4 linked regions of the Homo sapiens genome follow. The protein of the gene in region 1 purifies or fractionates together with the protein of each later gene. This does not show direct contact. Each region holds a gene or a part of one and is shown in the gene's direction. Other genes may lie near its edges.

Region 1 (5,297 bases):
AGGAACGGGGGCAGTGCCTTCGTGTTTCTCCACCATGTGAAATTGGGAGCCTACATGAACTAGTGTGGGCCAAGAAGAGCGGTTCTGAATATTGCAACTAAAAGCAGCTCTGAGATTATTAAAAGCCAGATGCTTACCTCCCCAATCTCAGGTGCCAGGTCTGGCCCTATAGCCAGTTTGTATGAGTCATACAAATTTCTTGAAACTAAACCTGAATCCACAAGCCAGTGACCTTGAAAACTGGAGTCGCCGGGCAGTAATTTCATCAGCCTTTAAACTCCCAGTTAAATGGCCAGAGAATCTGCCAACTCATCCAGGAATACTTTAAAGTGATTGAATCCAAGGAAGAACACAGGTGAAGGACCACATCTTAGATGACAAGATACTGCTGGATGTAAAAAATGTGTCAATTCTAATTCTAAACTCCTTTGGCACAGGAGTCCCTTGCTTTCTAGTAGTAGACCAGCAACTTTCTAGATCATATCATATAGTCTCCTTTATTTGTCATTACATCCCTGCTTGCCCTTGAGAGTTTAGTAAGTAAATGAAGATGTAAAGAAGGAGGGTAATTAGGCAGCAGGAACTACATTGTGTGGCCCGACTTTGATTGGCCCCGGGCCTCCTCCAGACCTGCCTTCCGTATCTAATTTGCAGATCTTCAGAACTCCCCAGTGGCCCTTCTGACTCTGTTTTCTGGCCCAGGGTCCCACACTACGTTTAGCTGACTGTCTTAGCTCCCTGTTCTCCTCCACTATGGGACAGTTTCGTCTTTCCTGAGCCTGAGGCGATGAGCAGTGTTTAGGACCAAACTGCAAATGGTATTCCAGCAAATGCTGTATCAGGAACTAGATCAATATTGGCTCTGCCCTCCAGGAATTTTCAACCTAGGTTCAATTCTGAATAGACTCTTAGACAGGGGGCATCTTTCAGGTTTAAGCCAGACTGTGGGCAGGAAATTACTGTGTGGTCACCGGTGGGGTCAGAGCCTCCAAGTGAGGGAGTCCAGGGCGATGGCCACTCTCCAAGAAAGGAAGCAGAACTCTTCCATAAAGGGAAAGTTCCTTCTGTTTTTTGTCACTTTTTTTTCCTTTCTTTTTATTTTTTTAAGAAATAAACACAACCAAAAAGCTAAAGTCCCCTTGGGCCATCATCTCTGGTCTCACTCCTCTCTCCCCTTCTCGGAGGCCAACTATTATCATGGCAGCATATCCTTTCAGGCCTTTTCTATGTGTGTGTGTTAAACATTCACATAATGGTATAATAATAGAATGTTCTGACTCTTTTTTGAAAATGTTCTCAAGCCTTTAGAGAAGTTGCAAGGATAGTACCATGAACTCTCATATAGGCTACATTTATTTATTTTTTTAATTAATTAATTAATTTTTTTTTTTTTTTTTTTGAGATAGAGTCTCACTCTGTTGCCAAGGCTGGAGTGCAGTGGCACAATCTCGGCTCACTGCAGCCTCCGCCTCCTGGGTTCAAGTGATTCTGCCTCAGCCTACAGACACAAGCCATCACACCCAACTAAATTTTGTATTTTTAGAAGAGACAGGGTTTTACCATGTTGGCCAGGCTGGTCTCAAACTCCTGACCTCAAGTGATCCACCCGCCTCGGCCTCCCAAAGTGCTGGGATTACAGGCATGAGTCACGGTGCCCAGCCTACTACATTTAAGCTGATCAGTTGTTGACATTTTGCTACATTTGCTCGATTCCTTTCCTTTCTATTTATTTACTTATTTATTTTGCAGACATGATGACATTTCTTCCCTAAATAATTTAGCCTATATCTCCTAAGGAGAAGGATATTTTCCCACATAACCCAATATAATTGATGATTCCAGAAACATAACATTAATATAGTACTATGATTGAATATATCATCCTCATACAAGGGTTTGCCACTGGTCCCAATAATTTCTTTTAAAGCTATTTTTATTTATGTACTTATTTTGGGATTCAGAATCCAGTCTAAAATCACTCATTGCATTTGGTTGCCATCTCCCATTTTTTTTTCTTCTTTCATTTCGCTGGCCTTTTTGAAGACTTCAGGGGAGTTGTTTTTCAGAATCTCTATTCTGACATTTTCAAGCTGCTTTTCTCCACTCGGTGTTTGGTTTTTGAGACGCATCCACGTGGAATGGCCTTGGGTCACTCCTTAGAGCATCTGCTCAGCCTCTGTTGCCGGCATCAGGCCCTTTAGTGCTCTAAGTGGCTGGTGCACCTGGCCAGGGCTCTGTCCCTAAGCGTGACTTTCTGTTGTCCCCCCGCAGATCAACATCATGCAAAGTGAAACAGTTCAGGACGTGCTGCTCCTGGACCCCCGCTGGCTCTGCACAAACGTCCTGGGGAAGTTGCTGTCCGTGGAGACCCCACGGGCGCTGCACCACTACCGGGGCCGCTACACCGTGGAGGACATCCAGCGCCTGGTGCCCGACAGCGACGTGGAGGAGCTGCTGCAGATCCTCGATGCCATGGACATCTGCGCCCGGGACCTGAGCAGCGGGACCATGGTGGACGTCCCAGCCCTGATCAAGACAGACAACCTGCACCGCTCCTGGGCTGATGAGGAGGACGAGGTGATGGTGTATGGTGGCGTGCGCATCGTGCCCGTGGAACACCTCACCCCCTTCCCATGTGGCATCTTTCACAAGGTCCAGGTGAACCTGTGCCGGTGGATCCACCAGCAAAGCACAGAGGGCGACGCGGACATCCGCCTGTGGGTGAATGGCTGCAAGCTGGCCAACCGTGGGGCCGAGCTGCTGGTGCTGCTGGTCAACCACGGCCAGGGCATTGAGGTCCAGGTCCGCGGCCTGGAGACGGAGAAGATCAAGTGCTGCCTGCTGCTGGACTCGGTGTGCAGCACCATTGAGAACGTCATGGCCACCACGCTGCCAGGGCTCCTGACCGTGAAGCATTACCTGAGCCCCCAGCAGCTGCGGGAGCACCATGAGCCCGTCATGATCTACCAGCCACGGGACTTCTTCCGGGCACAGACTCTGAAGGAAACCTCACTGACCAACACCATGGGGGGGTACAAGGAAAGCTTCAGCAGCATCATGTGCTTCGGGTGTCACGACGTCTACTCACAGGCCAGCCTCGGCATGGACATCCATGCATCAGACCTGAACCTCCTCACTCGGAGGAAACTGAGTCGCCTGCTGGACCCGCCCGACCCCCTGGGGAAGGACTGGTGCCTTCTCGCCATGAACTTAGGCCTCCCTGACCTCGTGGCAAAGTACAACACCAGTAACGGGGCTCCCAAGGATTTCCTCCCCAGCCCCCTCCACGCCCTGCTGCGGGAATGGACCACCTACCCTGAGAGCACAGTGGGCACCCTCATGTCCAAACTGAGGGAGCTGGGTCGCCGGGATGCCGCAGACTTTTTGCTGAAGGCATCCTCTGTGTTCAAAATCAACCTGGATGGCAATGGCCAGGAGGCCTATGCCTCGAGCTGCAACAGCGGCACCTCTTACAATTCCATTAGCTCTGTTGTATCCCGGTGAGGGCAGCCTCTGGCTTGGGCAGGGTCTGTTTGGACTGCAGAAGCAAGGGGGTGATGTAGCCCATCCTTCCCTTTGGAGATGCTGAGGGTGTTTCTTCCTGCACCCACAGCCAGGGGGATGCCACTCCTCCCTCCGGCTTGACCTGTTTCTCTGCCGCTACCTCCCTCCCCGTCTCATTCCGTTGTCTGTGGATGGTCATTGCAGTTTAAGAGCAGAACAGATCTTTTACTTTGGCCGCTTGAAAAGCTAGTGTACCTCCTCTCAGTGTTTTGGACTCCATCTCTCATCCTCCAGTACCTTGCTTCTTACTGATAATTTTGCTGGAATTCCTAACTTTTCAATGACATTTTTTTTAACTACTATATTGATTGTCCTTTAAAAAAGAAAAGTGCATATTTATCCAAAATGTGTATTTCTTATACGCTTTTCTTTGTTATACCATTTCCTCAGCTTATCTCTTTTATATTTGTAGGAGAAACTCCCATGTATGGAATCCCACTGTATGATTTATAAACAGACAATATGTGAGTGCCTTTTGCAGAAGAGGGTGTGTTTGAAATCATCGGAGTCAGCCAGGAGCTGTCACCAAGGAAACGCTACCTCTCTGTCCCTTGCTGTATGCTGATCATCGCCAGAGGTGCTTCACCCTGAGTTTTGTTTTGTATTGTTTTCTGACAGTTTTTCTGTTTTGTTTGGCAAGGAAAGGGGAGAAGGGAATCCTCCTCCAGGGTGATTTTATGATCAGTGTTGTTGCTCTAGGAAGACATTTTTCCGTTTGCTTTTGTTCCAATGTCAATGTGAACGTCCACATGAAACCTACACACTGTCATGCTTCATCATTCCCTCTCATCTCAGGTAGAAGGTTGACACAGTTGTAGGGTTACAGAGACCTATGTAAGAATTCAGAAGACCCCTGACTCATCATTTGTGGCAGTCCCTTATAATTGGTGCATAGCAGATGGTTTCCACATTTAGATCCTGGTTTCATAACTTCCTGTACTTGAAGTCTAAAAGCAGAAAATAAAGGAAGCAAGTTTTCTTCCATGATTTTAAATTGTGATCGAGTTTTAAATTGATAGGAGGGAACATGTCCTAATTCTTCTGTCCTGAGAAGCATGTAATGTTAATGTTATATCATATGTATATATATATATGCACTATGTATATACATATATATTAATACTGGTATTTTTACTTAATCTATAAAATGTCGTTAAAAAGTTGTTTGTTTTTTTCTTTTTTTATAAATAAACTGTTGCTCGTTGCATTAGTTTTTTTGATCTTTAATTCAAAAGGATTTCTTTTTACTTGTTGTGGTTTTACTGTTGTCACCCCACATAGCAGGACAACCCAGTCCAAAACCTAGAAAATCATTACACCTCAACTCTCAGGGTTATTGAGATGCCGATTATTACTCAAATTAGGAATGGTGTGGGAAAGTGAAAAGAGTTCAGATAATTTTCACATTTCTTCCCATTGTAAATAAAACAGGCCCCTTAGATTTTTCTCGGGTGAACCAAAAAACCAAACTGACTCTTTTAGTTTTGGCAACAGGGAACAGAGGAAGCTTTGCGACTTCTACACAAAAATGATGGGGATGGCACCAGGAGGAAGAGAAAACCTACAGCAAAAAGACCTTCGTGCCTTTCTTACATTTATAGTTCATTTATGTTTCAAGCAAGTTGTCCACAATAAACATGATTAACTTTCATAATGAGAAAAGAAGTCCTGATGAATAAAATTAAAACTAGACATAGGTGTGTCTACAAAGGATGAGACTGAAAGGGAAACTG
Region 2 (7,029 bases), on another chromosome or scaffold:
GAGAGGTGATTGTTGTATCTTGAACTAAATAAAAAGCATAAATAATCGTGAGTGCTCTTACATTTTCAGACGACAATGAAATTACAGCGTTTGGTCAATAGGTGTCTGTATGCCAGGAACCTTCCCCCACAGTCCGTGTTCTGGGCGTGTACATGAGGAAAGCTTACTGATTCAAGGGACCAGGCTCATTATGCCCTAATGCATGCTGGTGGTGGATATTAACGCATTTTTCTGTGGCTTCTGGGTATTTATTTAGTCAGAAGGGACCCATTCTCCCCCAGGATAGCATCTGACCCCTGCCAGCTTTTACAGGGGTAGAGTTAGTTTTGCACCTCCTGGGCATACATATGCAAATTGGAAACTCAACTCAGGATCATCTGACAAGTAGTTGACATTAGACACCAAAATGCTTTTTCACAAGTTATTCTCTCTCAGGTCAGTTTCCATTCACTGGTAATCTGTGATCTACGCATGCTTTCCTCCTGTGAGGCCGTTACTGCACTTTGCAACTTAAATCCTTTTTCTTTCTTAAAGAGTTAAAGTTAGAGAAAAATTGGTGAAAGAGGAAAGTGCTCGAAACAGCCCTGAACTCGCCTCAGAGTCCGTAACTCAGAGGAGACACCAGCCAGCGCCAGTCCATTACGTGTCATTTCAGTCTGAGCACTCAGCCTTTGATAGGGTCCCCAGCAAGGCAGCAGGCTCTACACGACAGCCAATCCGTGGCTATGTCCAACCCGCAGATACCGGTCACACCGCCAAGCTAGTGACGCCAGAAACCCCAGAAAATGCATCTGAGTGTAGCTGGGTAGCATCAGCCACCCAGAATGTCCCCAAACCTCCCAGCTTGACGGTTCTAGAAGGTGACGGAAGGGATAGCCCAGTTCTCCATGTCTGCGAGTCAAAAGCAGAAGAAGAAGAAGGGGAAGGAGAAGGAGAAGAAAAAGAAGAAGATGTGTGCTTCACTGAAGCTCTCGAGCAAAGCAAGAAAACCCTACTGGCTTTGGAGGGTGATGGGCTAGTGAGAAGCCCAGAAGATCCCTCTAGAAATGAGGACTTTGGTAAGCCTGCTGTGAGCACAGTCACCTTAGAGCATCAGAAGGAACTGGAAAACGTGGCACAACCCCCTCAAGCTCCGCACCAGCCCACTGAGAGGACAGGCAGGAGCGAGATGGTTCTCTACATTCAAAGTGAGCCTGTGTCCCAAGACGCCAAACCAACTGGTCACAACAGGGAAGCCTCGAAAAAGCGCAAGGTCCGTACCCGCTCTCTGTCAGATTTCACAGGCCCCCCTCAGCTCCAGGCCTTGAAGTATAAGGACCCAGCTTCCAGGAGAGAGCTGGAGCTGCCCAGCTCCAAGACCGAAGGGCCTTATGGGGAGATCAGCATGCTGGACACAAAAGTCTCTGTCGCCCAGCTCCGAAGTGCGTTCCTGGCATCTGCCAACGCCTGCAGGAGACCTGAACTGTAGGTGATGCTTCACACGCCCTCCAGCTGTGTCACTTGCACGTCCCTGGCAGAATGATTCACTCCTCGACCTGTGTTGTGTTCTGCATTGAATCATATTAGCTTAGCTCACAAGTGCGTGCAGGGCGACTATGCGGAAAATGGCTCAAAAACTACCACTCTGCTTCTGCCTACTAATGGGGAACTAGTGGATTGGGTGTCTGGAATGTCTCCTTCCTTACGTGCATGGTAGAGGCATGAAGAGGGGTTTGGTGGTGTCTGTCCCTTGACTCACGGAGATGCATAATCCTTTGCCATCTTCTCTTTCTCTGTCTTCGTTTGCCTTCCTTATACTCTCTGCCCTTTGATTCTCAAAGCAAATCACGGGTGGAGAGGTCGGCTGAAGGACCTGGCTTGCCCACCGGTGTGGAACGGGAGAGAGGGTCCCGGAAACCAAGACGCTATTTTTCTCCTGGTGAAAGTAGAAAAACTTCCGAGAGATTTAGAACCCAACCTATAACTTCAGCAGAACGAAAGGAATCGGATAGGTAGGCATGCGTATGCGCAGTTTCCTCATCCAGGAACGTGGCAATGACACAGGAGTTTTACCACACTGACGGTCTTGACGCTATTTATATAGGATGTTGGCGATTCCATAATTGTTCCATCTAACCTATAAGCGTTATTTATTTGGCTTATTTAAAAGTCTTTTTAAAGAATATTAGCCTTTACAGCGGTATTATGATACATACACAATTTTACATTGCATTCAGATGATAAGAAGTAAGAAACATTATTTTTCTTTATTTAATGGTTTTAATGTTTTTTACCCCTTGTTAAATTAGACTCCAGATTGCATATTCACCAGATTTTACAGTGAAAATAACTGAGGAATTTTATATTCATTTTATAAATGTCCATCTACTTGTTGTATTTGAGTTTTATACTGAAGTGTCATATACTATTGCATAGAAATGGTAAGATTTGTCTGGAAAATTGTCATCAGTGGTGTTTAACAAGTTGTTCTTGTGCCTGGTCTCTCTCCACGGGGTGTGTACTTGGCTGGGATTGTGTGCACACACGCTCCACAGTGTTGCTTCACAACTGTATGTGTGTTTTCACAACTAGAATTGCTACCAGGAGGTTATTTCTTAAAAGAATTTAATTGCATTTTTATTTTTACTTTCAGTATGATGTTTTATTTCGATCTTCTGCTCCCACCTGCTAATGTATTATTGTTATTTGCTAATGTCTTTCCTAGGTGCACTTCACATTCAGAAACGCCAACTGTCGATGGCAAGTACCTGTTTCCCTTTTTTTTCTTCTTTATTATCTCATCTAGACTGGATTTAATAATAAGGTTTTTGGCTTTTTGAGAGAGTAAGATGATGGAGCATAACAGTGTCTCCCTTTGCTGCAGGTTTTCGTTCTGTGGATATGATAAAATCTAGTTGAAATTTTCAGACAAGCTTTCCCTTCTTTTTGAGAGCAGTTAGAGAATCATACAGTGACCAATGTAAAAACAACTAATTCAAACCAAAGGAGCAGGTTCTTCTTGTTGTTGCTGCTGCTACTATTTAAAACTAAAAGAAATTCCCCCCATAAAATATATTCATGAAATCTCGATCAGACAAACGTTAGAGTAGAAATCCCTGGACAGAGTTTGCTTTGGTTTGGCTGGGTTGAATTGCAAGGGAAATTAGTACCTTTTCACTGAGCAGAAAGAATGGGCTCCCTGCAAGGGGAAACTACCACCAATTATTATTTTAGTGCACCTATTGTTGTATTCAAAGATTTCCAGGTCAGCCCTGAAAGACTTTTTGGAGACCGAACTTAACCTTCTCTAATGATGTCCAGTTTTTAATTTGTGGCTTTTTGCAGATGAAGAAAAGGTGGATGAACGAGCCAAGCTGAGCGTCGCCGCCAAGAGGTTGCTTTTCAGGGTAAGCTGTGCTGACGTGCTTGAATAGAGATCCCTACTGGGTGCAGTAATCCCAGCTATTTGAGAGGCCAAGGCAGGAGAATCACTTGAGGCCAGGAGTTTGAGACCAGCCTGGGCAACACAGTGAGACCCCCATCTCAAAAAAAATAAAAATTGTAAGCCTTAGGGAGGGGGAATCTTGTGGACCCAGCCTACTTCATGCACCTCTGGGCATGCTAAGGCCCTCCTGCCTCTGGCCCACCTGTTGTTCTCTTCCTAATCTTTGGCTGGTTGTGGCCACCTCATGGACACAGCATGAGTGTACACTTCTGACAACAATACGAGGTGCTCATTAGTGACCCCTCCTGTAGGTCCTGTAGGAGAACAAAGTGAAGAATTTTTACTACCCCCATTTCCTTTCCTTGAATTTCTTTGTTATTTTTAATTTTTTTTTAGAGATAGGGTCTCACTCTCTCACTCAGGGTTGAGTGCAGCAATGTGATCATAGCTCACTGCAGCCTCAACTTCCCAGGCTCAAGTGATGTTCCCACCTCAGCCTCCCAAGTAGCTGGGACTACAGGCCTGTGCCAGCATGCCTGGCTAATTTATGCATTTTTTGTAGAGATGAGGGGGTCTCACTTTGTTGCCCAGGCTGGTCTTGAACTCTTGGCCTCCAGCAATCTTCCCTCCTTAGCCTCCCAAAGTGCTGGGATTACAGGCGTGAGCCACCGTGCCCAGCTCTTTCCTTGAATTTATAAGGGTTCCACAATACTTCTAATCTTAGGAGATGGAAAAATCTTTTGATGAACAAAATGTTCCAAAGCGACGCTCAAGAAACACAGCTGTGGAGCAGAGGCTACGCCGTCTGCAGGACAGGTCCCTCACCCAGCCCATCACCACTGAAGAGGTGGTCATCGCAGCCACGTAAGTGCCCACAGGACTTCTCAGCCTTGTCTATAGTGTCTTTTTTTAAAAAAATACATTTAAAGAGTGTTCAATGAAAATGAGGCATTGGGGAGGTGATTTAGCTAGAAGCCACAGAGAAGTTAGTACTAAGGGATTTTGTTTACTGTGGTCTCTCTAAACTTTGTAATGGGATGTGTATCTTCTAGAAAAACTTGAAAGGAGTTTTTGTTCTATTTTGTTTCTGTCTCTGCATATTGATATTTTAAAAATCTCTTTGACAACGGAAAATAGAAACATGAAACTTGGTGGATTGCTGTGATGAAACCCCAGCTTCCACGGTCACCCGCTCCTGGCCGGTGATGCTCAGCCCGTGTGCCATTCATTTCCCCTTTCCTCCTGTGCTATTTTCAAGCAAACACTAGAGGTCTTACCATTTCATCCATAAATATCCCAGTACGCCCCTCTAAAAGATAAGGTTTGTTTTGTTCTTAATTGCCAGAAATCTCTTTTCTTTTTTTCTTTTTTTTTTTTTTTTTTTTTTTTTTTTGAGAGAGAGTCTTGCTCTGTCACCCAGAACGGAGTGCAGTGGCATGATCTCGGCTCACTGCAACCTCCGCCTCCTGGGTTCAAGCGATTCTCCTGCCTCCACCTCCCGAGTAGTTGGGATTACAGGCATGTGCCACCACACTCAGCTAATTTTTGTATTTTTAGTAGAGACGGGGTTTCACCATGTTGGCCAGGCTGGTCTCAAACTCCTGACCTCAGGTGATCCATGCCTCAGCCTCCCAAAGTGCTGGGATTAATTGCCAGAAATTTCTAAAAATTAAATTGCAGTTTGATAACTTTCCAAACAATAGGAAGTTTGTTTTGAATAATATGTTTCAATATATTCAGAATTAATTTCCCAGAGTAGTTCATTCAGAGATCATTGCTTCAATCAAGTGAAAAATTTTCTTATTTTTGCGGGGGGCATTGTTTGTTTTTTTGAGGCAGTGTCTCACTCTGTTACTCAGGCTGGAATGCAGTGCGCCATCTTGGCTCATTACAGCCTCAACCTCCTGGGCTCAATTGACCCTCCAACCTCAGCCTCCCAAGTAGTTGGGACTGTAGGCCCAACCACCACACCTGGCTAATTTTTGTATTTTTTGTGGTGATGGGGTTTTGCCATGTTGCCCAGTCTGATCTTAAACTCCTGGGCTCAAGCGATCCTCCCACCTCAGCCTCCCAAAGTGCTGGAGCTACAGGCGTGAGCCACTGTACCCAGCCTAGTTTTGTTGTTGTTGATGTTGTTAATTGGTTTTGTGCTTACCTTGGACACACAGACACCCTTCCTGGAAAAAAAAATAGTTCATCCCATTAGGTTATTGACATCCCAAAAGGCCTCTATGTCAGTGCCCCGTTCTGTAGACCTGCTGTTAGATCAGCTGCCTACAGTTCCTCCCCGAGTTGTTCCTCAGTTTCTTGGTGCATTTGTAGCTAAGTATATCCTTGCACTCATTAGGAACTCTTTGCAAATCAGTTTGTTTTTTAAAAAAAGAAATATTTGAATGGCTGGTGTAAAATAACAGGCAGATACCCATGGGAGCAAAACAGTAAATATAAGAAAAATTAATCCCATTTTAAGGCTCAATAAATCTACCTTGATGTGCCTATAGATTGTATAAGAACACTGATACTTTTAAAAAGTAGATTGAGGCCGGGTGCAGTGGCTCACACCTGTAATCCCAGCACTTAGGGAGGCAGAGGTGGGTGGATCACCTGAAGTCAGGAGTTCAAGACCAGCCTGGCCAACATGGTGAAACCCCGTCCCTACTAAAAAATACAAAAATATTGGCCAGGCATGGTGGCGCACGCCTGTAATCCCAGCTACTCGGGAGGCTGAGGCAGGAGAAATGCTTAAACCCAGGAGGTGGAGGCTGCAGTGAGCCGAGATCGCGCCACTGCATTCCAGCCTGGGCGACAGAGTGAGACTCTGTCAAAAAAAAAAAAAAAAAAAAAGGCTGGGCCCAGTGGCTTACACCTGTAATCCCAGCACTTTGGGAGGCTGAGGCAGGTGGATCACGAGGTCAAGAGATCAAGACCATCCTGGCCAACATGGTGAAACCTCATCTCTAATAAAAATACAAAAATTAACTGGGCGTGGTGGTGCGCGCCTGTAATCCCAGCTACTCAGGAGGCTGAGGCAGGAGAATCACTTGACCCCGGGAGGCGGAGTTTGCAGTGAGCCAAGATCATGCCACTGCACTCCAGCCTGGTGACAGAGACAGACTCCATCTCCAAAAAAGAAAAAGAAAGAAAAAAATTAGATTGGAAACAATATTCTAAAACACAGACATAATCTACTGATTTTTTGATAGCTAATATTTGCTTTTTTGAATTATTATTTTTTTTACACCAAGACATGTATTCTCAAGACAGAGTAAATCCTCCCAGCTCTGAACACCTATTCTTACCCCATTTGCTTTGGGTAGCCACTATCTCTTATTTCCTGAGTTTGTATTTGCTTTTGAAGTTCTTTCGTGATTTTTTCTCCCCAAAAATAATTAGCAAAATATTCTGTTAAAATTTTTGATTTAACGTTTCTGAATTTAAAACTATGCTGTCCTTAATGCTTCTTTTCTTCTCTCTCCTTATGAATGTTTCCTCTTTGGCAATTGCTTTTAAAGTGAACCTATCCCCGCTTCGTGTTCTGGGGGCACCCACCCTGTAATGGCGAGACTTCCTAGCCCCACTGTAGCTAGGAGCGCTGTGCAGCCTGC
Region 3 (7,792 bases), on another chromosome or scaffold:
GGGGTTAGGGGAGAGAGGGGACTCTACAGGTGGGTAAAAGTCATTAATGACATCAGAGAGGCAACTGTCAGGTCTCTTTATACTTAAAGAATTTTTTGGCTTCAGAAGCCATGAAAAGTACATATGCTATTTCTGATGTATCATTCTTAGTTCAAATCCAGGCTCATGCAGTAAAGAGGAGGAGGTATGTTTTGGATATTTTCTAAGGCAGAGTTCCAAATCATTTCTATATGGCTGTAAGTACGTAATGAAGTTATTTTGCAACATATGTTTGCCTTTCTACTTCTGCTCTGTGATAATTTGGGATTATAAAATAAATTTATAAAATGCCCTTTGAATATGCTGTGTGACTATTGTTGTTGTTGTTTTTTTCCTAGCTGTCTTATTTCTGTCTTGCCAGACTCATGCTGAAAGAGTTGTCTTCCTTGGATGCAAAGCCTCTGGTAAAGGGAGGGAGGGCAGGGCAGCCCAGAAACATTCTGGGAAAGTTGAATGGGAATAAACATTTGTGGTGGAAAATTCAGGGTTGATTTTCGTGGATCATCAAGAGTAGACCCTCTGCAGTGGCTGGTAACTACAGAAGGGTTTTTGGAACAGTAGCTTTTGTTCAGTGTGAACACACAGTGTGCAGGCCTGGTCCCAGGGGAGAAATAAACACAGCCCTGAGATCTGCTTCCGGGGCAGGAGATGAGACTGAGGTTAATGTTGTACAATGACTAATTTGCAATGCAGAAAACTACCAAGGGGGGTGGATTTACAGTCTCACATTTTATGACCCATAGGTTCACAGACCATTCCATATTCATTTATCAAGCAACAGTTTATTAAGCACTTCATCTCTTAGCACTATGCTAGGAGGTGCCAGAATTACATTTACATCAAAAACCAGAAAAGACAGCTTCCAGCCCTCATGGCCCTTACAAACGAGTGAGAGAGACAGACAGTAGGCTCAAGGGCATTTAGTACTGTAATGGGGGCAGCACTTCCAGGATGCTGCAGGAGGCACAGAGGAGGAACAGCCAATTCTGACTCAGGAGATTATGGAAGCCTTCTTGGAGGAAGTGATGTTGAGACTGAGAGCGGAGGGATGAGCGGAAGTTAGCTAGGTCATAGGAGTGAGGGGTGGGGTGGCGGGGAGAACTTCAGGCAGAGAACAGGATGCACCTTCTCAGGGGCATATGGGTATATTTGACATCTAATTATTTTTGTTTTTAGAATTACCTGTTCAGTGTTTATAATCTCCTAGCACATCTATGCCAAATAGAGCTAAGAGGTACCCTGGACCAGGGTTTTCAAAAATATCTGCTGGTTCTTCAGTTCTGGAAGGTTTGCAAAATTCTGATGTGACTTTGATTTCTAAGTGTTATTTAATATTTTTAAATTAAAAATTTTTATTTAGCACAGTTTTAGATTACTATTTAATTTTTAAGTTTAAATTTCAGGCCGAGTGTGGTGGCTCACACCTCTAATCCCAGCACTTTGGGAGGCTGAGGTGGGCAGATCATGAGGTCAGGAGCTTGAGACCAGCCTGACCAACATGGTGAAACCCCGTTTCTACTAAAAATACAAAAATTAGCTGGGCATGGTGGCATGCACCTGTAGTCCCAGCTACTCAGGAGGCTGAGGCAGGAGACTCGCTTGAACCCGGGAGGCGGAGGTTGCAGTGAGCCGAGATCGTGTCACTGCACTTCAGCCTGGGCGGCAGAGCAAGACTCCGTCTCAAAATAAATGAATAAATTTCAAACTAATTGCAAAGTTACAGAAAAGTTGTGAGGATAGTACAAAAGAAAATCCCCTCAAAAGTCCCATATATTTTTAATGACTTTACCACTTGTTAGTATTTTGCATCATTTGCTTTAATCATTTATATGTCTACCAATATATATGCACGCCCTCCTTCCACCTCCTCATCTTATTATTTTTATTATTCTTGCCAAACAGTTCGAGACATCATTTTACTCCTAAATACTTTAGCAGATACCTGCTAGAAACAAGGACATTATCTTGCAGAATCCCAGTAAAATGATCAAGTTCAGAAAAACTAGCATTGATACTATCCTACTATCTAACATCGCGTCTATATTTGAATTTCACCAATTATCCCAACAATGTCCTTTACATTTTTCTGGTTGGAGATCCAGTCCAGAATCACCCATTGCCTTTAATAGTGATGTGCCTCAGCCTCTTTGTCTTTCACATCATTGATATTTTTGAAGAATACAGGTCAATTGTTTTGTAGGATGCCCCTTAATGTGAGTTTGTTTGATGCTTCTTCATGATTAGATTCCATTTACGTATTTTTAGCAGGTAAATGATATGTGTCTTTTTCAGGAGACCATATCAGGAGGCTCATGGTGTCTGTGTGTCTCATGATTGGGGATATAAACTTTTATTTGTTTTATTTTTTGTATATTTTAAACTGTAACAAAAACATGCATCTCCAAATGTGTTTCTATTCAAATTTTATCACAAAGAACATTCATAATGAGCTAATCTGCTCTAGGTTACCTTGACTGAATGCAGACCAGAGTATTCAGTCTCTCCTGCCGGCTGTGCATATACCTGAACTTTGCTCAAGTGTGTCATTGATTAATAATGTTGTAACTGCACATTGGCCTAGAAATGCTGAATGTAAAGTTGTATGGGTAACAAATTACTGCTTAGTTATACAAACAAGAATTTGCTTGACACAGTACAATGAAAACAACATACAAAAGTAAACTGGAATCCTGAGGCTAATAGTGAGCCCCATTGAGCAGATTTGGGTTCATCATGAGAGCATCAATGCCTAATTTTATACTAATTTGGACTTATACAAGAAATTAATAAAATACCCTTTGCATATGTTGTATATGTGTTTTATATGTTGGGTTCCTATATAAGATGTTGATTAAAATGAGGATCTCTTACTTTGGCCATTTGGAAACCACATTGTATCCCACCATAGCTCCTAACCACTGTACAATTTCTGCAACTCTCTCATCATCTGCAAGCCGTGATGTTTCTTTTCCTGGTACCTGGGATTTTGCCCTAATTTTTAACACCTACAGAGCTCAGGGAACACACATATATAATTTACCAAAAGGTTTTGGGGTGTGGTCCCTGGATGCTCCAAAGTGCATACAGTTTGAGATTTCTTTCTTTCCTTCTTGAAGTTCAGTTCTGCTTATGTTAAAACATGCCAATACAAACATTAGGAATACAACCATACCCTATGCAATAACCTACTTAGCCACTGACCGACACCTCCACAAATGACCCAACCATAGGACAGTCCTACCTTATTCCAGAGCTTTTATTCCACAAATGAGGACACTGATATCGAGACAGGTGGATCTCCTCCTTCTGAAGGACAGCTGCTAACGGTAGTCAGATGCAACCCAGCTCTGCTGGTGCCAGGGATTGGGGTGGTTTTCTGATGGCAGAGGCAGTCCCTCAGGAGGTGACAAAGCTCCTTTCCTTTCTCTTAGCAAGTGTGGGTGGCTGGCAGCTGAAGCAGGCCTTGGGCAAGGTCCTTCAGTCTGGTTTACTCATCTCAAACTCAGCCAGAGTTGAAGCCCAGCCAGGTCCTTGGAGGCCTCTAGATTTCCTCGTAGATTTTGTAATAGAAGATGTCCTAACAGAAACACAGGACTGAATAAATGTAGATACCTTAGAAAGTCATTTATTTAAAAAAAATAGCTGGGCATGGTGTCATACACCTGTAGTCCCAGCTGCTCAGGAGGCTGAGGCTGGAGGATTGCTTGAGCCCAGGAGTTTGAGGTTGCAGTGAGCTGTGATTGCACCACTGCACTCCAGCCTGGGTGACAGAGGGAGAATTTGTCTCCAGAAAAAGAAAAAAAAAAAAAAAAGAAAGAAAGTCATTTGTAGTATATTTTCTTTGGGAAAATACATTGAGTTCAAAAAGAATTTTCCAAGCTCAACCAATGTATCAATAAATTGGAGACTACTTACAACTCACTTCATTCCACTGAACCAGTATGGATTTCATATTTATATATGCAAAGTAGTACAATAGTTATTTGGTGGATGCAAAAAGAATGGTCCCATGCTCAAGACATCCGCAATAATCCTGGAGAGATGATACAAAGATATATTAAAAACTTAATAATCATATAAGGTAATGTCTGATGACATGCTCGGATGAGTGGAAGAGAAAATGGGCCACTGAAGAATGGAGGTAGTCAGACGTGGTTGAACGCTGCGGCTCCTAAGTCAAATGACCTGCGTGAAACCGCAGCTGCTCCACTTCCTAGTCGTATGGCAAGTTTCTTAAAAGTTCTCTAAGGCGCTGAGAACAGCTCTGGGCATTTTTGGTGCCCCAAAAATGTTAGCCATTATTATTACCTCTCAGTCTGTGCTTGAACCACCACTTCAAGAATGGGCAGGGTGTGAGTAGAGAGGCGGGAGTGGGTTTTGGAGCAGGGTGACAGAATCATAATGAATTGTCCTCGCGAAAAGCTCCACGAACTACTTTTCTAACTTTGTTGGCAGCTACCAAGTGTGGGCGGCAGGCGGCCATCCTCTTGGCCGCCTGAGATCCCAGCGCCTGTCCCCAGGGGGCGCTGCCACCCAGCTGCCGCCGCCCGGCCCAGCGCGCGTCCCCGCCGCCCACCCGCGCGTGCGCGCCGCCCAGGTGAAGAGGCGGCGGCCAGGGCCGCGGCTGGGGCGGGCTCCTCAGTGGGCCGGGAGGGGCGGAGCCGGGAGGCCCGGGCGGGGCGGAGCCGGGACGAGCCCCAGGCTGGAGGCGGGACCAGCCGCTGCCGTCTCCGTCTCGGTGTCCCGGCCCCTACAGCGCCCGGCAGCCGCGGCGGGAGGAGCGGAAACTGTCGGGTGCGTCCCGTTCGGAGCCGCGCCGGCCGAGAAGGCGCCGAGGAGCAGCGAGGCGGCCTCTGTCCGGCCCGGACCCGCCGAGCGGCGTGCGCGCCCCCTCCCCGTAGCCTCGCGGCGCGGCCTCGCCCCGGCCCCTCCCGAGCTCATCGCGGGCCCACGGAGCGGCCCCGGAGGCCCGAGCGCGCCCACCTGAGCCCCCGCGCTGGCGCCATGGCGGAGCAGGAGAGCCTGGAATTCGGCAAGGCAGACTTCGTGCTGATGGACACCGTCTCCATGCCCGAGTTCATGGCCAACCTCAGGCTCAGGTGAGGGCGGAGCGGCCGCGCGCAGGGGCGCGAGGCTGCGCTTTCCCGAGAGGGGGCGCCTCGGGGCGCGGCCGGATCCGGGGTGTCGGGAGCGCCCAAGCTCCAGGGATGGAGGCGCGGCCGGGCTGCGGTGTCCGGGGGTCTGCCAAGCTCCGCGGCTGCGCTTTCCCGAGAGCGGACGCCCCTGGGGTGCGGCCGCTTTGGGGTGCGGGGGGCGTGTCGAGCTCAAGGGCCGCGCTTCCCTGAGAGGGGAGCCCTGGGCGCTGTCCGGGGTTTAGGTGCAGAGGGTGTGCCGCGCGGGAGGGCGCGCTTCCCCGCGCCAGGTGAGGGATGTGGGCGGGCCGGTGACCTCATGGAAACTGAAGGGAAATAACTTGAACGAGAGTTGCGGTGGCCCCGAAGGCCCTAGGAGGACTGGAGGATTATTTTGGAGAGAGGCTGGCGTCTCATCCCGGCTTTACACTTGCTTCTTTTCTTTCTTTCTTCGCCCTTCTTTTTTTTTTCCTCCTGGCGTAGTTCCATCCTGTCATTCAGGATGCTATGGAGTGATCCCTGAGCTGTCTGTTCCGGGACACTGGCTATTTTTTTAGTTACTCTCTAAACGTAATTAGACACGTTTCCAGACATCGAAGAGACTGCTGTACTTGCCAGTGCCAAGATAAACTGTCTGAATTTGACAAGACGTTCATGGTTTTGGTTTTTTTCAAGGAGTTAGTGGATGGAGCTCTTGTGTTATTAACATCCTTGAGAACGTAGTCACAACTCAACGCCCCAAAATGGGCTTCCAAGATGTGGATTTGTTTTAGAAAGCCCTTTACATGCGATTATTTCACCCTTGATAGAGTAATATGTAAACAGTTTTAAAGTAGTTTGACTTAAACATTAAAGTAAGTGGAATTTCAAAATAGCTGAGTTTTGGTGTGCGTGTGTATGTTTCCCTGCAAGCTTTGGCTGCATTTCTTCTAAGGTTTATAGCTAAACATCATTCCTTAAGCTTATAAAGTGAAAGTCATAATCTAGGCTTGGGTGCTTAACCCTAATTTCATTATTAACTACCCCTGTCAATCCAGTTGACAGGGGTCAATCAGGTTGATTACATACCAGCATAATGATAGGATGTTACATTTCTGATCAAGGTTTGGATGTACAACTTTTATAGAAATCACCCCAAATATTAATCAAAATGATATACCTCTACATCAGCTATAACCAATACCCATTATCATAGTGATTAAGAGTCAGACTGTTGAGATTCAAATTCTAGTTCCACTGCATTCTTGCTGTGATCTTTGAGCAAGTTACTTAACCTCTCTGTGCCTCAGTCTTCCCGTCTGTAGGATTGGGGTTGTCCTGAGGGTTAAATGAATTATTAATAATATGTGTATACATACTTCAAAGATTAGTGCCTGGCAAATCCATATTAGTAAAACTGTTTTAAGTTTTCCCAAGTGCACATAAAATAGATAAAGGGGTAAGTTACATAGCAATTTCATAGATTAAGGTTGTTTTAAATTAAGAGATTCTACTCCTCTCCCCCACAGGAAATAAGTTGTGTGCTTTGAGAAATGCCTTTATAATTTTGTCACTCTCAGTTATAATCATTTCAGTTTTTCAGACATTGGTACATTTATTATGTACATACTGTATACAAGACCATGTAGTAACAGTTGAATATGAAGCCTTTCATTTTAACCTCCATCTTTCACCTCCAGCAAATACATGGGCTTAGCCAGAGCTTTTGCAGAATTTTCAGAATTTGAAATTGAAGGCATAGAGTCTAACAGGGCTACATTAGTTTGTAGGACTACTCCTCTGTAATAGAATTAAAACTCTTGTGGTTTTTAAAAAGTAAATTGAGGGAAGGCACTTAGAATTTCTGCTTTTTTTTTTAAAGCATTAAGTCTCTTAAGTGTGAAGTTTGAATCTCAAAATAGATTACTAAGGTGAGCCTAACAACTCCTATGTGTACAGAAGAGAATGCTGCAATTTATTTATATTTATATTTATATTTTTTAGAGATGGGCCCTTAGAGTTGCTATGTTGAGCAGACTGTTCTTGAATTCCTGGCCTCAAGCAATCCTCCCATCTTGGCCTCCCAAAGCACTAGGATTATAGGTGTGAGCCACCATGCCCGGCCGAATGCTGCAATTTAATTCTACTGTGTGCAAGGTACTCTAGGAGATAAGCTAGGAGTATCCAAAGAACTACAAGATGTGCTGCTTACCTCTCGAAGAGGTGACATCTCAATGAAGACCTGGAGAAAGGTGGAATTTTCTATTGATTTAAAGAATAGTTCAAGAAAACAACATCAGGAGGCTGAGACAGAAGGATTGCTTGAGCCCAGGAGTTCAAAGCTGCCGTGAGCTATGATCACACCACTGTACTCCAGCCTGTGTAATAGAGCACGACCCTGTCTCTTAGAAGAAAAAGAAGAAAGAAAACAGAGAGAGACAGAGACACAAAGAGAGAGAGAGAGACAGAGACAGATAAAGAGGAAGGAAGGGAAGGAAGGAGAGAAAAGAAAAAAAGAAAGGAAAAGAAAGAGAAGATAAAAGCCTTATAAAGCTTAGGTGATTATTTGTCAAGTAATTATAGAAATTGTTCTGGAAGTTCAGAAGAGAGAGAGATACCTTAGGTTGACTCCAAAACACCTT
Region 4 (7,029 bases), on another chromosome or scaffold:
GTGCTGTACAATTTCAGAGCACCGTTCCTTACACAGCTTCAGTTTCTGACTTGGGAATTATTCTTAGTTATGATGATGGTGAGGCTTTAGCAGGAACGGGGACTAGGGAGGCCCCCTCAGGAATTGCTGCTCCAGCTCACAGATGGTTTTGCCTGGCAGGAGCTGATGGGAACTTGGTATTGTTACAAGGTGAAACAACATAGTTGACATTAATGTCTCTTGATGTGGATAAGACACATTGTTCAACTCACATCCCTCTTGTCTGTCTATACAGCCCTGTTCATTTAAGCCCACCTGGCCTCTTTTTGGTGGCATGCTTATAAAAAGTAGGCAGTGATCAGTGGCTTGAGATTAAGGAAATGATAAGCCGTGTCTTTGAAAGCAGATGCTCCTATTTATAACTCAGACATCCTATACTTTTACATTCCATGAGGTGGGGAACAGGACATGACTGACCACAGGGAAATGGTGGCAGGGCAGGTGCCTCGCCCGTTAGAAGCCTGCCCTCCCTCCAGGCTGGGAAATGCTTATTGTTAGGCAAATACTGAGGCATGTTGTGGGGTACCTGCAGCTACAGGATAATGTTAATTCAGCTTTTTGTGTATTAAGTGCCTACTCTGTGGTGCTTATGTGCTGAGGATGCAAGACAAGGATCTCTGCCCTCATGGCTCACATTGTTGAGGGGTGGGGATGTCATCGTTACCTAAAGCTTAAGGGGGAAAGAGCCTTGTTCAGTGTACCTGCAGGCACATCTGCATGAGCTATGGCAGGAAACTGAAGAGAAAGCTGGGGGCTTGTGCCAGGCTCCACTCCCAGGCCTTTTGGGGTGTGTCTTCTCTTGTGTCTGCCATTGGGTGGAATTGGATTGCACGTGCACGCAGTCCGCTCCTCTGCACAGCCAAGGCTTTCTGGGGCCCCGAAATGAAACCTTACAGTACCTTGGAAGTCCAGCCTGGGTAGCTTTGTCCAGCCTGTCCAACCCGGGTACCCGAGGATCTGCTGTGACCCAGAAACATGACTTAGGTTATAGCCCAGCCCCCATTTTACTCACAAGGAACCTGAAGCTTGAGAGCTTGAGTGACCGGTGTGAACAGCAGGCCTGGGATTCGGATCCCTGTCAGCCCAAGTCATGTGCTGGACCCCACTCACTGTGTTTTCCAGAACACAGTGAGCAGAGGGCCCCGTAAATACAGGATCTTGTCCCATTTCCCCTTGCAGCAGATCCACCAGTGAGGGTGCGGTGTGGAATTCCAGGGGATGCAACTGCAAGATCACCCATATTGGGACCAGCTAGAGCCATATGCTATTTCCAGACCTAGGCTTTCACAGATTCATGTTTCAGTGGAAGGAAAGGGAGGTTTAATGGTTATGGAGCACCAGCCACATGCTATGCACTCTGTTAGAACGGTCCTCACCACAGCCTGACAAGGTAGGTTCAACTTTAGGCTGGAGGCAGCATAGTACAAGAAAATAGAGTTAGGAGCCAGACTGCTTTAGGATAACAGTACCTCTGCATAAGGTCGTAATGAGGGTTAAGTAATATCTGTCAAGTGCATCCAGTAGCATCTGGCACATAGTGATGTAAACATTAACTATTGTTATTATCACCATTTTCCAAAAGTGTGCAAAGGGGTGTATGGTTAGTCCCTGTCTAGCTACTAAGTGGAGGAATTGGGTTTTCTGACTCCAGAGCAAACCGTTTTTCTCCACTCCGTACTGCCTGCCGATGGCTGCTTTGGAGTTTGTCTGGCTCTGGGTTGTGCCTTGAACGCACAACTTACCTAATAGAGCCTGGGGCTCTTTTCTCCATTAAAGACAAGCTCACTGTGAGCTGGGCACCATGTGTTGCCAGAGCCTCATGCTATATGTCAGGCCCGAATTCCTTGTTTGTGCCAGTGGAACCCCCTGTGACTGGAGGGTTCCTGCCCTCTTCCAGGCTTGGAAGAAGAGAGACAGGGCTGGGGACAGAGCATATGAGCTCTGTGAGAGCAGGGACCTTGTCTGTTTGGTTCCCTCTGAGTACCCCACACCTTGCACTGGCCGCCTGGCACTTAGCGCCAGCTACATAAACACTGAGTGAGAGCTGAGAGGCGGCTGCCTGCTCCACAGAACATGGTCTCTGCAGTTGGGCACATCTGGATTTGAGTCCTGTCTGCCACTCAGCATGTGACTGTCAGTGAGGCGGCTAATTCCCTTGGTCTCAGTTTTCCTGTTCCGTCGCATGAGGATAACATTTTATAGAGATGGGGAGTAGGGGTGAAATTTGTAATGTACTTACTCCAGTGCTTGGCACACAGTAGCTGTGGTTGTTGCATGTCTTATTCTGCATACCACAGAATAAGGGACACAAATAGAAGCCATCATCCCTGTCCTCTAATCTGGGAGGGGGAGGCAAGATGCGTCCAAAAAGCCAAGTGCAGCAGGAATGAAGTAGTACTAGAAAAGACTTAGCCAGGGACCCATGGGTGCTGTGGTCTGCCCATCCCTGCAGGCCTGGCTTGCATTTCCCCCTCCTCCACGCAGCCCTGCAGACCACTCCAGCCTGCAGTCGGCTTGGGGGCTGGGCATGAAGCCTGGGAAGAGTGTGCTCAGGCAGAGAGGACAGGGTGGGGTATGGTCAAGGGGACTGGCACAAAAGCAGAGGTCAGGGGGTGTGGTCACACAAGCAGTAGATGCGAGCCCATGGGGTGCCTCAGTCTCAGGAGTGAGTTGTGGAGTGCCTGAGTTGCTAAGCTAAGGAGTTTGCATTAGATCTGGGACAGTGTGGAGCCAGTGAAATTTTTGACAGGGCAGGTAGAAATTCGAGGAGGCTGGCAGAGCGGTGGTATTTTAGGAAGAGCCCTCTGGCTGTGCATGCAGGAGGCCTGGGAGGTGAAAGAGATGGGAGAGAGGCCTCCACAAGCATCAGCTTGTGAGCTTATGAGGGTCCTGGCCACTGTGCAGCTGTGGGTGTGGAAAGGAAGGGATGGTGGAAGGAGATAAAGGCAGAGTGACACGGAATGATTTACCACCTCTGGAGCTGAGGGGGTCTGCCCCAGAGCTGTCCCATGTAGGTGTTCTGATTGGACAGTTTATCATTGACACACAGCTATTTCAGGTCAGTCTAAATCCTAGATAGTGGTGTCTGCAAAGCCTTGAGAGCCTGTTAACAACTGAATGGGGATTTCAGTCTGGGTAGCCCAGTGATCCATCCAGCCAGTGACTCTGTGACTGCAGGTGGCACCAAGTTCAGCCTGATGCACACAGCATTAGGTTCTGGTGCCTAAGACACCAGTCTGCTGAGGGAGATGGTGGGGTGGCGGGCTCTGCATGGCAGCTGTAGGAATAACAGAAGCTAGTTTTTTTTTGTTTGTTTGTTTGAGACAGAGTCTCGCTCTGCCACCTAGGCTGGAGTACAGTGGCACGATCTCGACTCCCTGCAACCTCCGTCTCCTAGACTCAGGGAATTCTCTTGCCTCAGCCTCCCAAGTAGCTGGGACTACAGGTGCGTACCACCATGCCTAGCTAATTTTTTGTATTTTTAGTAGAGACAGGGTTTCACCATGTTGGCCAGGCTGGTCTTGAACGCCTGGCCTCATGATCTGCCTGCCTCAGCCTCCCAAAGTGCTGGGGATTACAGGCATGAGCCACTGTACTTGGCCAGGAGCTAGTTTTGACTGATGACTTTTTAATATTCCAGCCAGCCCTACGAGGCAGATTCTCATGTCACCCTCATTATGCAGGTGAGGAAACCGAGGCCCACCTGGCAGTCCTGGCACTGCGCTATGCTCCCTTTAGTGATTTTTTTCCATCGGGTCATTCATTCCGTGGATGTCTACTGAGCAGTCAGGTAGACCTAATAGAATATGCCATCTGAGTCTTAAGGTTAAATGGAGGAAGCGGGTGGAAGCAAGTATGTCCAAAGTTCTGAAAGACTCAGGAGTGAGTGCAGAACCAGCCTGGGGAAGTCCACAGCGTCAGACAGGCAGGGAGGCTGCTTGCCTGCGTTTTTCCGTGCTTCCTCCTATGGTCACCCCACATGTTTCTGACATCTCTGGATGCTTGTGAACAGGAGCCTTTGCCTACAACTTTCTAGTGTTAGGTTTTCAGTTGTGTCGTCACGTGTCTTGTAAGGCAACAACCCTGGTGGTTGCCATTCACCTGGCACGTAGTGATGATTGTGAGGACTGAGTTTATGTGTGGAAAGTGTAGACGATGCCTGGCACGTTGTAAGTGCAGTAGGAGTGTTATCTCTTATTATTGTGGTTATTCTGTTAACATGGATGGATGATAGGTGGTGTTTCATTTAACTTCCCAACCAGCCTGGAAGGCAGGTGCTAGTTCCTTCTTCTGAGACTCCAAGATGTAGAGTCCCTTGCCCAAGGAGAGTGGTCTTAAGGGGCTCATTCTGTTTAAACACCAGACTGCTGAAAACAGCAGCCCAGGGTTTCTGGTCTCAAGAGCTCTTACCACATTGCAGCTTGGAAGCAGTTGTTACCACTGGCTCAGACCCCGCACTTCTCCACCCTCTGCTTCAATTGCTCTGTGCAGCTTCCTCTTCTAGTGCTGAACTCAGCATGATGCTCCTGAGTTAGGCTCGGTATCTTATTTAACAGTGTTTGGGCTTGCTGTCTCAGAGCCCTAGTAAGTGGATTCAGGCATCGTATTTACCAAGTGAAGTACTTTAACTTAAAATAGAAAGTTAAACCAGGTGCTGTGGTGTGTGTCAGTGGTCCCAGCTACTCAGGAGGCTGAGGTGGGAGGATCGCTTGGGCCCAGGAGTTCAAGGCCAACCTGGGCAACATAGTAAGACCCCATCTTTCTTTCAAAAAAAGTTATGAAAAGATGCTTTTGCATTGCACCCTATCTGCTGGAGCTTCCAATTAGAATTGAGCCAGTGGCATTTTCCGGTGGTACCGGTGCCCTTTTCCCTTCTCAGTTGCAGCAGTGATTGGCAGGTAGAGTGTTGCTGCTGAAGGCTTCTCCGTCGTGAGGCTTTGACCCTGATGGGCTGTCGTTGGTTTCACATGAGTGGGCTCCCTGCGTTGCAGTTTTGTGCTCAGAAACTGGAAGGAGGAGCCTTAATCCACCACATCCTTCTGGTGTGAAAAGTCTTGAGACACTGAGGAACTCAGACTCCAAAAGAGCAGCGGCCAGGCTTGGCTGTTAGTTCCTCTGCTGAGAATTTCCAATGTGAGCTGTTGTCATGTCCTCAGTGTATACCCTCCAGACACCTTCTATCCTGAAATCTCTTTTGGGCACAGGGTGGTGTGGACCCCTGGTTGTCCTGAGATTTGAGACCTTGTTCAGGCAGAGAGGATGGGCTGGGGTGTGGTTAAGCAGAGTCCATTCTTGGTCTTGAGGAGTGCACTCATGGCACAGGCATCAGGGGATGCCATGAAATGAAGGATACCTTCAGTCTGTAGGCTGGTATTGAGTGTTCACTCACAGAGTGGCCCCTTCCTTCTGCCAGTATTTACCGGATGCCCACAGTCATTGTCTGTAATTCTCTCAACACCAACCCTGTGAGGTCTGTTTCCTCATTTTGCAGATAAGGAAACCGGAGCTCAGAGAGGTGTAGTAACTTGCTGAAGGGCCCCCAGCTAGTTAATGGCAGTTGCCATGGAGGTCCAGGTCCACCGCACTCAGCGCATGCTGATGGAATTCCCCTCTCCTGCCTCTCTGGCACCAGCCCATGGGGATGTTTATTTTATAGATGAGGAAACTGGGGCCGAGAGGTTCCCCTGTACGTCTAGCCACAGTGGCTGAAGAGGTCTGGGTTTTGTTTAGGAGGTTTTTTTGGTTCCACTTGTTGAAATGCAAGGAGATGGAACTTTGTGAACTGCAATCTGTTTTCCAAAAGATAGCCACTCAGCTGAAAGGGCGAGATAGTCTTAGCCTAGCGTCGGCCACTGTGTGGCTTGGCCTACTGGACAGGACGGTTCTTTGTGCAGTAGTGTCAGTGTCCCTGGCTCTTCCTGCCTGTGACGTGAGTGGCAGCAGCACATCTTAATCATTGCGACAGCCCTCCATGGGGACTATTGGGTGACAAAGCCTTGCAGGATCCTTTGGCTTTTTCCTATGAAGCCCCATCCCAGCCCTGGTCACCATATACAGTGTAAGATGCAGGGATTCTGAGAGGAAAGACAAAATTGGCCTGTTTGATTGATTGATTGAGACAGGGTCTCATTCTGTTGCCCAGGCTGGAGTGCATGGTTCCATCTTGGCTCACTGTAGCCTCAGCCTCCTCGGCTCAAGCAGTCCTCCCCCTTCAGCCTCTCATGCAGCTGGGATAACAGGCATGTGCCACAGTGCCTGCCAGCTGGGATAACAGGCATGTGCCACAGTGCCTGCCTGCCTGCCTATCTATCTATCTATCTATCTATCTATCTATCTATCTATCTATCTATCTATCTATCTACTTATTTTTTAGAGACAGAGTCTTACTTTGTTGCCCAGGCTGGTCTCGAACTTGTGGGCTCAAGGGATCCTCCCGCCTTGACCTTCTAAAATGCTGAGATTATGGGCGTGAAGCCACCATGCCTGGCCAAAATTGGCCTGTTTTAGTAGTTACCTGAGCTCAGGCAGATCGAGTTGGTTACCCTTGTTCTGCCTGGTAAGTTTGTTTCTTATCCTTAGGAGGGAAGATGAAAAATCCTGGCTCTCAGTCTTGGGGTGCTGAAGCAGTGTTACACACTGGCCCTGACACAGCCATTGCTCTACAGGTGTTAGATGAATGACTGAATGTCCAGTAGGTCCTTAATAAATGTAAGAATCCCTCCCTCCATTAGGTTGAACCATATGAAGTTGCCATTTTCCTAGGTAAAAAAGGGTTGAATTAACCAGCCTTTCATGTGGTTCAACCTAATACAGACTAAACACTGGGGCCAGGCAATTCCACTGTGAGACTAGCCATGTCCAGATCTCTGGGCCTGAGCTCTCGGCCAAGCCTGGCTTCTCCTAGGGCCTACCCAGTTGTCAGTGTCAGGCTCTCAGTCGAGAACAGAGGAGCCGAGCGGGGTCTGCCCCCGAGATGGGGCAGTGCTCTCT

Evidence for each region.
Region 2: the proteins of DAPK1 (region 1) and SVIL purify together in Homo sapiens (affinity purification with mass spectrometry; 2 studies listed by BioGRID and IntAct, with this or other methods). This does not show direct contact.
Region 3: the proteins of DAPK1 (region 1) and MYO1D purify together in Homo sapiens (affinity purification with mass spectrometry; 2 studies listed by BioGRID and IntAct, with this or other methods). This does not show direct contact.
Region 4: the proteins of DAPK1 (region 1) and CAPZB purify together in Homo sapiens (affinity purification with mass spectrometry; 2 studies listed by BioGRID and IntAct, with this or other methods). This does not show direct contact.

What each region holds. Positions count from the first base shown.
Region 1 is NC_000009.12:87,703,861-87,709,157, forward strand, and holds the end of DAPK1 (death-associated protein kinase 1), read left to right. Parts: intron 1-2,271; coding exon 2,272-3,504; 3' UTR 3,505-4,774; downstream 4,775-5,297. UniProt on the Homo sapiens protein: Calcium/calmodulin-dependent serine/threonine kinase involved in multiple cellular signaling pathways that trigger cell survival, apoptosis, and autophagy.
Region 2 is NC_000010.11:29,526,964-29,533,992, reverse strand, and holds part of SVIL (supervillin), read left to right. Parts: intron 1-534; coding exon 535-1,464; intron 1,465-1,820; coding exon 1,821-1,991; intron 1,992-2,704; coding exon 2,705-2,739; intron 2,740-3,324; coding exon 3,325-3,386; intron 3,387-4,148; coding exon 4,149-4,288; intron 4,289-6,936; coding exon 6,937-7,029.
Region 3 is NC_000017.11:32,874,124-32,881,915, reverse strand, and holds the start of MYO1D (unconventional myosin-Id), read left to right. Parts: upstream 1-4,791; 5' UTR 4,792-5,043; coding exon 5,044-5,138; intron 5,139-7,792. UniProt on the Homo sapiens protein: Unconventional myosin that functions as actin-based motor protein with ATPase activity. Plays a role in endosomal protein trafficking, and especially in the transfer of cargo proteins from early to recycling endosomes.
Region 4 is NC_000001.11:19,475,540-19,482,568, reverse strand, and holds part of CAPZB (F-actin-capping protein subunit beta), read left to right. Parts: intron 1-7,029. UniProt on the Homo sapiens protein: F-actin-capping proteins bind in a Ca(2+)-independent manner to the fast growing ends of actin filaments (barbed end) thereby blocking the exchange of subunits at these ends.